Homo sapiens: one gene and its partners. The protein of the gene in region 3 purifies or fractionates together with the protein of the main gene of each other region. This does not show direct contact. Each region holds a gene or a part of one and is shown on either strand. Other genes may lie near its edges.

The links.
Region 1: the proteins of DIS3L (region 3) and EXOSC8 purify together in Homo sapiens (affinity purification with mass spectrometry; 6 studies listed by BioGRID and IntAct, with this or other methods). This does not show direct contact.
Region 2: the proteins of DIS3L (region 3) and EXOSC5 purify together in Homo sapiens (affinity purification with mass spectrometry; 5 studies listed by BioGRID and IntAct, with this or other methods). This does not show direct contact.

What each region holds. Positions count from the first base shown.
Region 1 is NC_000013.11:37,003,557-37,006,949, forward strand, and holds part of EXOSC8 (exosome complex component RRP43), read left to right. Parts: intron 1-959; coding exon 960-1,005; intron 1,006-2,363; coding exon 2,364-2,469; intron 2,470-2,558; coding exon 2,559-2,604; intron 2,605-3,393. UniProt on the Homo sapiens protein: Non-catalytic component of the RNA exosome complex which has 3'->5' exoribonuclease activity and participates in a multitude of cellular RNA processing and degradation events.
Region 2 is NC_000019.10:41,387,290-41,391,018, reverse strand, and holds part of EXOSC5 (exosome complex component RRP46), read left to right. Parts: intron 1-1,113; coding exon 1,114-1,254; intron 1,255-3,415; coding exon 3,416-3,505; intron 3,506-3,729. UniProt on the Homo sapiens protein: Non-catalytic component of the RNA exosome complex which has 3'->5' exoribonuclease activity and participates in a multitude of cellular RNA processing and degradation events.
Region 3 is NC_000015.10:66,296,568-66,300,067, reverse strand, and holds part of DIS3L (DIS3-like exonuclease 1), read right to left. Parts: intron 1-3,500. UniProt on the Homo sapiens protein: Catalytic component of the RNA exosome complex which has 3'->5' exoribonuclease activity and participates in a multitude of cellular RNA processing and degradation events.

The DNA of each region.
Region 1 (3,393 bases), on a different chromosome or scaffold from region 3:
ACTCCAAAGCCTGTGCTTCTTTGACTACAGTATACCCTGTGTTATTTAACCTCAGTTGAGATTCTTCTTTCGTAAACCTGGAGTGATGTATAACAGTAAGATTTGAGAACTTGCTCCTTGTCAGGTTTTATGCCTGGGATTTAACAGGTCTATCTCATTTGGCCCTTATTAACAGTCCCTAGGAGTAGACACTATTTTCTTCCCATTTGACAAGATGAGGAGTTTAAGGTAAGAGGTTAAATAACTTGCCTGAAGTCTCTCAGCCAGTAAGTATGGCTCTGACATTTGAACTGGCTTAGTAATTGCAGAGCATTTGCTTTTTTTTTTTTTTTTGAGACGGAGTCTTGCTCTGTCGCCCAGGCTGGAGTGCAGTGGCACGATGTCAGCTCACTGCAAGTTCCGTCTCCTGGGTTGAAGTGATTCTCCTGCCTCAGCCTCCCAAGTAGCTGGGATTACAGGCGCCCGCCACCATGCCTGGCTAATTTTTGTATTTTTAGTAGAGACGGGGTTTTGCCATCTTGGCCAGGCTGGTCTCAAACTCCTGACCTCAGGTGATCCGCCCGCCTCTGTGTCCCAAAGTGCTGGGATTACCGGTGTGAGCCACCGCGCCCAGCTGAGCTTTTGCTCTTTACCACTAAAGCAGCAGTTCCTAAATCTTGCTCTATCATCTGGAGAACAAATTAAGATTCTTGGCTAGTAGTTGGGGGCACAAACCCAGTTACTATTTTTTAAAAGATCTCCAGGTAATCTTGCCGAGCAGCACTGTAGTGTAGTCCACTGTACTGTAGTGCCTTCTTATCTTGTAGAGCTATTGTGAGGATCAGCACCAATGTCCGTAGAGGCCCTGACACAATTCCCTAAGCTGATATTTGATAGAGCCTTCCATAACTGATTGCTAAATTGTCTTCATAATTTTTCAGTAGCTTCTTTCAATAGGAAACATTTCTTTGCTACTATAGGAATTTGCAGCACCATCAACAGATGCCCCTGATAAAGGATACGTTGGTAAGTTAAATGGTTTTGTAATTTTAATACAAATACTTTTAACACATTTAATAATTTTTAGTTAAGTCCTAGTTAAGTTGATGTAAAGAAAATTATTCCTAATATTCGGAAATATTTATGAATAAAACAAATTCCTCAAAAGTTTTCCGTGTGTTAGTAAAAGATAGCATAATAGCAGGATATAGAATTTCATAAATTTAACCTTTATCAAACTTGTTTGCTCAATTTTTGTTTATACATTCATAAGTTACTAACCAAGAAAATAGAATTTTGGCTGGGTGTGGTGACTCACACCTATAATACCAGGATTTTGGGAGGCCAAGACAGCAGGATCGCTTCAGCCCAGCAGTTCAAGACCAGCCTGGGAAACAAAGGAGACCCCGTATCTACAAAAAAAATCAAGTTAGCTGGGTGTGCCAGTGCACACCTGTGTCCCAGCTACTTGGGAGGCTGAAGCAGGAGGATTGCTTGAGCCTGGGAGGTTGAGGCTACAATGAACTATAATTGTGTCACTGCATTCAAGCCTGAGTGACAGAGTGAAACCCTGTTTCAAAAGAAAAAAAAAATAGAATGGAATTTTTTTAAGTCAAAGAACTGTCATTGCACACCTTTTGTTTCCATAAAGATTCTTTGCTTTATACAACTGCTATTTTTTTCTTGCCTTGGAACCATCTGTTCTTTATGGTAGGAACCAACATTTTTTTTAAATGAGAAAAACAGTTGGATGTTAGCAGAGGGGCTATATATACTTCAGTTACAGATTGAGGTATTTTGAAAGATACCAGGAAAACTCGTAAAGGATTTAGAATTGAGGTCTAAAATAGATTTTTTAAAAAGGCATATGGGGGAAAAATGTCAGAAAAATAGAAATTTCATGGCTGGGAGTCTTAGAGAGACCAAACAGAATATAACTATAATGTTACAATGTATTCTACTCAGAAGAGCCTGTCCATGGCCACAGTTGCCTTTACTGTGGATTGATAATACCTTTAACACTTCAGTAATCCATAAATTGAAAAGTTTAGGCCGGGCATGGTGGCTCACACCTGTAACCTCAGCACTTTGCGAGGCTGAGGCGGGCGGATCACGAGGTCAGGCGATCGAGACCATCTTGGCCAATATGGTAAAACCCTGTCTACTAAAATACAAAAAATTAGCCGGGCGTGGTGGCGTGTGCCTGTAATCTCAGCTACTTGGGAGGCTGAGGCAAGGAAATCTCTTGAACCTGGGAGGTAGAGGTTGCAGTAAGCTGAGATCGCACCAATGCACTCCAGCCTGGCAACAGAGCAAGACTCCATCTCAAAAAAAAAAAAAAAAAAAAAAAGGTTTAGTTCATAGCTGCAGAGTGTTTCTTTCAGTTCCTAATGTGGATCTACCACCCCTGTGTTCATCGAGATTCCGGTCTGGACCTCCTGGAGAAGAGGCCCAAGTGGCTAGCCAGTTCATTGCAGATGTCATTGAAAAGTAAGAGCACCATGATAAAATTTTATTACAATTCATTTTCAGATAGTTTTGGGCTTTTCATTTACTTTGCTCTTTGTCATTAAATCAAGTTCACAGATAATTCAGAAAGAGGACTTATGCATTTCTCCAGGAAAGGTAAGAGGAATAGAGAAGCTATAAGTTCTTATTAATTCTGAAGGGATTTTTTTTTTGTGGGGGAAAGTGAACAAGGAAATTAAAACCACCAATCAAAGTAGCTTTAAATATGGATGTCTTACAGATTTTAGAGATTCAGTAATTTCTTACTCTATAATTCTCTAAATGAACCATATTGTTTATAAAAAAACAAGTTTGACTAACTTACTGCCTGTCTGGGAGCTACCTTTTAAACTGAAGTAATTTTTTTCCCCCTTAACTTTTAAAGTTCAATCATTTTTTATTCCTTATAGCAGATTATAACATTAATCATGTTAACATATGTTTATGGTGAATCCACACAGTAGATTCCAAAGTCTATTTGAAAATGTAAAACTAGGTTGATTAGAACCTAGAGAGGCTTTCCTACTAGATCATATAAACTGATACATTAGCACTGTAAAACTTAAACATTTCATGTATTATGAGAACGTGCATTTTGAATTTTAGCTAGGGCTTTCAAAACCATCTCCCTTATCTGTAACCTCCCAATGAGAATGGAAATTCCTTCTACATCTGTAGCTCCATTAAGGGAAATGGACATGTTTGTCATTTGTCAGCCTGGCAATCAAAAGCCAGCTTTCACAAAACCTGTCCACTTTCTTCTGGTTTTCTATAGAACTTTAAAAAGGTGAAGCATTTTCTTAAGGTTTTTGAGCCTTGAAAGTTATCTTGCTTGTTTAACCAAGGGTTCTGTGGTTCTTAAGTCTAAGCTAATAGCATGTTCTACCCATTAGAAGACTTTAATTT
Region 2 (3,729 bases), on a different chromosome or scaffold from region 3:
AGACAGCAGCTGAGTCAGGAGCGTGGCCTTGTAAGATCTCCATGTCTGAGGTGCGAGAGGTTGAGGTTGAGGACTAGAATTAGACACTGTAGAAGGCTTTACTGGAACGTGGCCCTGAACTGGACAGACATTTTATGGATGGGCAGAGAGAGAAGGTATTGTGACCCCATTTTACAGAAGTGGAAAGTGAAGCCCAGAGGAAGGCGTGGAGGATCAGCAGCAGAGCTGGAACCGGTTGACTAAAGCTGTGGTCTTTGTCTGGCTGCTAGGCCTGGAGAAGAAACACATTAGGAAACTGAGGCAGAGCCAGCTGACTCCCAACCTGTGCTCTCTTTCCACTGTGAGCTTCCTGCAGGCAGCAGCGAGGTGGCTCTTCCTCCATTGCCCTGCCAGCTCTGTCACCGGGGAGTGGCTGCTACCCAAGTTTCGGGCCTGGCTTTGCCAGTGCCTCCCCCTCGTGTCTTTGGAAGGTTTCTTCCCCTCTCTGACCCTATTTGCCAACAAATGTGTGGTACGTACTTCAGTACATACCTATTGAATATTATTATATTCCCCATCTAACAGATGAGGAGATTGAGACTCAAGGAGTAAGTCACTTGTTCAAGGTCACACAGCTGAGCAAAACTAGGTCTGGAACCCAGGGCTACTTGATCCCCGGACCACTTTTAACCACTCTGCCATACTGCCCTTCTGTGACCGATTAGTGATGTCTGCCATAGGCATCAGCCTGGTGGAGGGAGGCATGGATCTGCTCTGCTGGCCAGGCCTACAGTAGAAACTTCTTAGGCTGGGCGTGGTGGCTCATGCCTGTAATCCCAGCACTTTGGGAGGCCGAGGCAGGTGGATCACCTGAGGTCAGGAGTTTTCAGACCAGCCTGGCCAACATAGTGAAACCCCATCTCTACTAAAAATACAAAGATTAGCCGGGTGTGGTGGTGGGTGCCTGTAATCCCAGCTACTCAGGAGGCTGAGGCAGGAGAATTGCTTGAACCCAGGAGGTGGAGGTTGCAGTGAGCCGAGATCACACCATTGCACTCCAGCCTGGGCAACAAGAGCGAAACTCCATCTCCAAAAAAAAAAAAAAGAAACTTAACCATTTCCTGTGGTGCTCAGCTCCTGGCCTGTTGTCTGAATGCCGCCTGCATGGCATTGGTGGATGCAGGTGTGCCCATGCGGGCTCTCTTCTGTGGGGTCGCCTGCGCCCTGGACTCTGATGGGACCCTCGTGCTGGATCCTACATCCAAGCAAGAAAAGGTAGGTGTGAAGACCAGGGTGGCTGAAGGGCAGAGGCCAGACAGCTGCCCGTCCCTTCCTCCAGGCCTCGCTTCTCTACAGACAGTCGGCTCATGCCACCTCAATCCCACTTAGCAAGGGCTGCTCTAATCATCATGGTTCATTTAGCAGCAAGTGCTGGAAACCCAGCTCAGACTTGCTTAATTAGGAAGGAAATGTGGGGCCGGGAGCGGTGGCTCACGCCTGTAATCCCAGCACTTTGGGAGGCTGAGGTGGGTGGATCACCTGAGGTCGGGAGTTCGAGATCAGTCTGACCAACATGGAGAAACCCCATCTCTACTAAAAATACAAAATTAGCCAGGTGTGGTGGCGCACGCCTGTAATCCCAGCTACTCAGGAGGCTGAGGCAGGAGAATCGCTTGAACCCAGGACGCGGAGGTTGTGGTGAGCCGAGATCGCGCCATTGCACTCCAGCCTGGGCAATAAGAGTGAAACTCCATCTCAAAAAATATAAATAAATAAACTAGAAAGGAAATGTATGGCCAGGTGTGGTGGCTCACACCTGTAATGCCAGCACTTTGGGAGTCTGAGGCAGGCAGATCACCTGAGGCTGGGAGTTGAAGACCAGCCTGGCCAACATTGCAAAACCCTGTCTCTACTAAAAATACAAAGGTTAGCTAGGCATGGTGGCACACATCTGTAATCTCAGCTACTCAGGAGGCTGAGGCAGGAGAATCACTTAAACCTGGAGGGTGGAGGTTACAGTGAGCTGAGATCGCACCACTTCACTCCAGCCTGGATGAAAGAGTGAAACTCTCAAAAATAAAATAAAATAAAACCAGGACTTTAAACACCATCAGGATGTCCTTGCTTCACTTCTCGTCCCTGCCTTTCTCTGCACATCAGCTTCATTCTTTCTGGCCAGCACCTTTCCTGAGGCTGGGACTGACCCCTTAAGCTCCATTTCCATCCTAGGAGGCTCAAAAGCAAACGAGAAGAGAGTTTTCCTCATCGGCTCAGGTGCAGTGTCCTAAGCTCAAGTTATTCTGAGTTTTCTGCCCAGTGCTATAATGGTCCCCTCTAGTCAAGAAGACGGAAACCACTTGGAGGGTTTCAGATGGAGGGAGTTAAATGCAGGGACTTTGTAACAACAGTGTTGAGGAACTAGAGGAGGAAAAAGGAAGCAGGAGTGACACCCAGAGATGAGAAACCCCTCCCAGACCTGGACTGAACCTGCGAGCCACCTCCTGTTCTGTCGTGTTGGAGACATCATCTCAATTGGTTCTGGATGCACATAGCATGTCCTGCTTCTGCCCTGGCCACTGAGGTCCAGAACCCACCCCACCTCCATGGCTGTCACACAGCCACAGCCATCAGCACCTGCCATTGTCCATGAGGACCAGGGTGCTGCTTTTCTTCCATTCTCCCACCTCATTACTGATGGAAACTAGCTGGTAAGGGAGTCTGGGAAATACAGCTTGCTGGCTTCCAGCCCCTGTGGGACAGAGCATGGAAGGGGGACTGGGAGGCCGAGAGGTACCAGATAAGTGAGTGGCACTATGGCTAGCCCCTTGGGGCAGGAATACTGAGCTTGGAAGCCCCTGTCAGAACCACGTGGTTGGAATAAGGGGCATGGAGTACAGTTCTACAAAGGAAAGGCAGAGGGCTATACCCAGGGAAGTAGGGAAGGGGTAGCGTAGACAAAAAATGGCTGCGCTTGATGCTTGATAGGTGAGCGCCTGGCTATGGAAAGGGAGAGGCCTGGAGGCCAAGGGTCCGGAGTCCCCTCAGTGGGACTGGCTGCAAGTGTGTGGTGGGAAGGGGAGCGTTGAGACAGGGTCTCACTGTCGCCCATGCTGGAGTGTAGTACGATCACAGCTCACTGCAGCTTCAAACTCCTGGGCTCAAGCAGTCCTCCCACCTCTGCCTCCTGAGTAGCTGGGAACTCAGACATGCACCCCCACACCCAGCTACCTTTTTTTTTTTTTTTTTTCTGAGATGGGGTCTCCCTCTGTTGCCCAGATTGGTCTTGAGTTTCTGGCCTCAAGCAGTGCCCTGCCTTGGCCTCCCAAAGTGGTGAGATTATGGTCATGAGCCACTGTGCCTGGCCAAAGGACTGGCTGAGATTTTATCTGAGGGGAAGGTCCTAGGTCCCCCACCGCCTTCTACCCCTTGTCCCTAGGAGGCCCGGGCAGTCCTGACCTTTGCCCTGGACAGCGTGGAACGGAAGCTGCTGATGTCCAGCACCAAGGGGCTCTACTCAGACACTGAGGTACCAGCATGGGGATGAGGGGAAAAGCCAGAACCTTCCTTCCCACTGACATACGGTCTTGTCCCAACTCTGCCCTGGATTCTGAGAGGCTTCAGGAGAGCCTCTTAAATTTCTTCTTGTAAAAAGGGAGTTTTCAAACTTTGTGGACCCAGAAACCTTTGCGGAAATGTTTAAGGGAAGCCCAATTTATAACACAGGCAAAAAGAGGATGAGCTCAGTTTGAA
Region 3 (3,500 bases):
TTATTTATTTATTTTTGGAGATGGAGTCTTGCTCTGTCACCCAGGCTGGAGTGCAGTGGAGCGATCCTGGCTCACTGCAACCTCCGCCTCCCAGGTTCAAGCAATTCTCATGTCTCAGTCTCCCGAGTAGCTAGGACTACAGGCGTGCATCACACACAGCTGGCTAATTTTTTGTATTTTAGTAGAGATGGGTTTCACCGTGTTGCCCAGTCTGGAACTCCTGAGGTCAGGCAATCTGCCCAACTTGGCCTGTCAAAATGCTAGGATTACAGGCGTGAGCCACCGCGCCCGGCTGTGTATGATGTTTTTAGTTTCAATGTTGACATGTTTTCAATTCTCTTAGTTATACACTTAGGAAGTTTTATATATTTTTACCTATTAAATACTCCTTGGAAACATCTATTTCTCTCTATCTCTAAGCTACCAACATTCCCTCATCTGGACTAAAGCAAAAGCCTCCTCCCTTCTTTTTTCCAGGCCTCTTCTCTACCTGGCCCAGTAATCCCTTTTTTTTTTTTTTTTGAGATGGAGTTTTGCTCTTTTGCCCAGACGGGAGTGCAACGGCGTGATCGTGGCTCACTGCAACCTCCGCCTCCCAAGTTCAAGCAATTCTCCCACCTCAGCCTCCTGAGTAGCTGGGATTATTACAGGCACCCACCATCACGCCCAGATAATTTTTGGATTTTTGTAGTGATGGGGCTTCACCATGTTGGCCTGGCTGGTCTTCAACTCCTGACCTCAAGTGATCCACCCACCTCCACCTCCCAAAGTGCTGGGATTACAAGTGTGAACCACCGCTGAGTAATCCTTTCAGGACAGGAATCTGATCATGTTATCCCATTTTGCTTAAAAGTTTTCCCTGACATCCCTGAGGCCATGAGGCCTTCCATCCCACCCAGGCATTCTTTCTGCTCCTGGGGTGTGCCACAGGCCCCTCCCCATGGGCCCCAGGCATTTTCCTCTGCCTTGAAAGCTTTCCTCCACTCTGCCTGGTTTATGCCAACCCTTGGACCTCCACCTAGGCGTCCCCCTCAGAAAAGCCCTTCCTTGCCTCCCTGGGTGGTCTGGGCTCTCCTGGCGCCCCATCCCTGTGCTTCAGTGCATTTGTCACAGTTGCAGTTCTGCATCTGTTTGTGTAATTGCCCGATTACTGCCTGTCACCCTGCCAGGACTCCATCTGCTTTGGTTCGCCACTGTACCCTCAGTGCTAGCAGTTTCTGGCACATATAGTCTCTTGGTGAACATTTGTTGAATAAACCAACACACATGTGAACACATGAACATGGTGGACAAAACAGCCTTACAGAGTTGTCAGGGGGACTCCTCATTAAATAAGCATTTATTTGAAGATTATTAGATGGCAGAACATGTGATTATCCTGAACGACTTAAGACCTGACATTAGTCATACTGTTCTGTGCAATACACTTATGAGAACAAGCATTCTCTGCATTGATATTATTGAAGTCAAAATAGGAAATCTTATTACAAATATAACCAGATTAAAGGCTGTGTCTTTCCATTGTTAAACCTAACTCTGGTGATTTTGTTTCAGCAAAACAATGTTATCTGTCACGTTGAATAATGTTCATTTGCGGTTTTCTGATTTTGTTACTTTGATTATTTAGCTTACACTAGGGTTGTATTAAAGTACTTAAACATGAGGACTTATACCGAGATTTATGTTTAAACACATTTAAATAACAATAGAAGAAAATAACACTGGGTATCCAGGAGGATTTTTTTCTTTTAGAAACAAGATGGATATATCACTCATGTTGAGAACACTGAGGTACTGGATGGGGAGTTAGATCATGTGACCTTTCAGATCTCTCCAACCATAATATTCTACAATTTCAATCTTTTTTTTTTTTTTTTTTTTTTTTTTTGAGACGGAGTCTTGCTTTTGTTGCCCAGGCTGGAGTGCTGTAGCATGATCTCGGCTCACCACAACCTCCGCCTCCCGGGTTCAAGCGATTTTCCTGCCTCCGTCTCCTGAGTAGCTGGGATTACTGGCATGCGCCACGTCATCTCGCGCATTTTGTATCTTTAGTAGTGACAGGATTTCGCCATGTTGGCCAGGCTGGTATCAAACTCTTGACCTCAAGTGATCTACCTGCCTTAGCCTCCCAAAGTGCTGAGATTATGGGCATGAGCTACTCAGCCTGGCCTGATTCCCATCTTATATACCATCAAGAAACTGAGGCATGAAATATGGAGACTCTCTGAAGCTATACAGAAGGAATTCAGGAGGGAGTCAAAAGGAACAAGCAAAGCATCCTACACCAGACACCAGACAGGACCAGGGATTATTAACTGACAAAACTTTCCTAACCAAGAATGTTCCTAAAAGCATATTGGATAAAATGAATTATTTACTTGCATCTCAAAAATGTCCAAGGAAGAAATGAAAAACAAAACAAAATGTTCCCCAACATTAAATGAACAAAACACTAGAGAGCTTCTGCTAGGCCAAGTTCAGTTAAATATAAAAAGTTAATTATCACCAAAAAAATGTTAAGTATGTAAAGTAATGCATATGCTAATTAGCTTGATTTGGCCTTTCCACAATGTATACATATTTTAAAACATCATGTTGTATACCATAAATATATATGATTTTTAAAAATAAGTTTTTTAATAGAGACAGGGGTCTCACTATGTTGCACAGATTGGTCTTGAACTGGGCTCAAGTTATCCTCCTGTCTTGGCCTCCCAAAGTGCTGGGATTATAAGTATGAGCCACCAGGCCTGGCCAAATACATACAATTTTAATCTGTCAATTAAAAAAAGTCAAATAACTTACACTTAACACTTAGGAAGGCTGAATTAATCAAGCACATCTCTCAGATCTTATGTATTCAATGCCTATTATTAATTTGAAAGTTAGCCTTTAAGAAATGACACTTTCTAGTGCTCAGACAATTTGGGTCATTTAGCTATGTCAACCTGAAGGCACCTGCTGGTTGCTTAACAGGTAAACAAAGTGCCAAGTCCCAAATTTGCTGATTTCTTCCTCTTCTTCAATCATACTCGTAATACGCCTTAAAGACCAGTCTCAAATCCATTTCCCCCAAAGGATTTTTTGGCCTAATTGCTCCACTCCACGTTTACTTCTGCACTTTGCATAGTCCACGTTAAATTATCCTTCGTGTGTCTAAGGCGCTTCATAATAACTGTCTTGTTTCTTCTATCTAACCCCAGCAAGACAATAGGTTTGTTGTTAGAGGGACTAAGACTGATTTTGGGCCGGGCACAGTGGCTCATGCCTGTAATCCCAGCACTTTGGGAGGCTGAGGCAGGCGGATCATGAGGTAAGGAGTTCAACACAAGTCTGACCAACATGGTGAAACCCCATCTCTACTAAAAATACAAAAATTAGCCGGGCGTGGTGGCGTGCACCTGTAATCCCAGCTACTCAGGAGGCTGAGGCAGGAGAATCACTTGAACCCGGGAGGTGGAGGTTGCAGTGACCTGTGAGCCGAAATCACGCCACTGTAC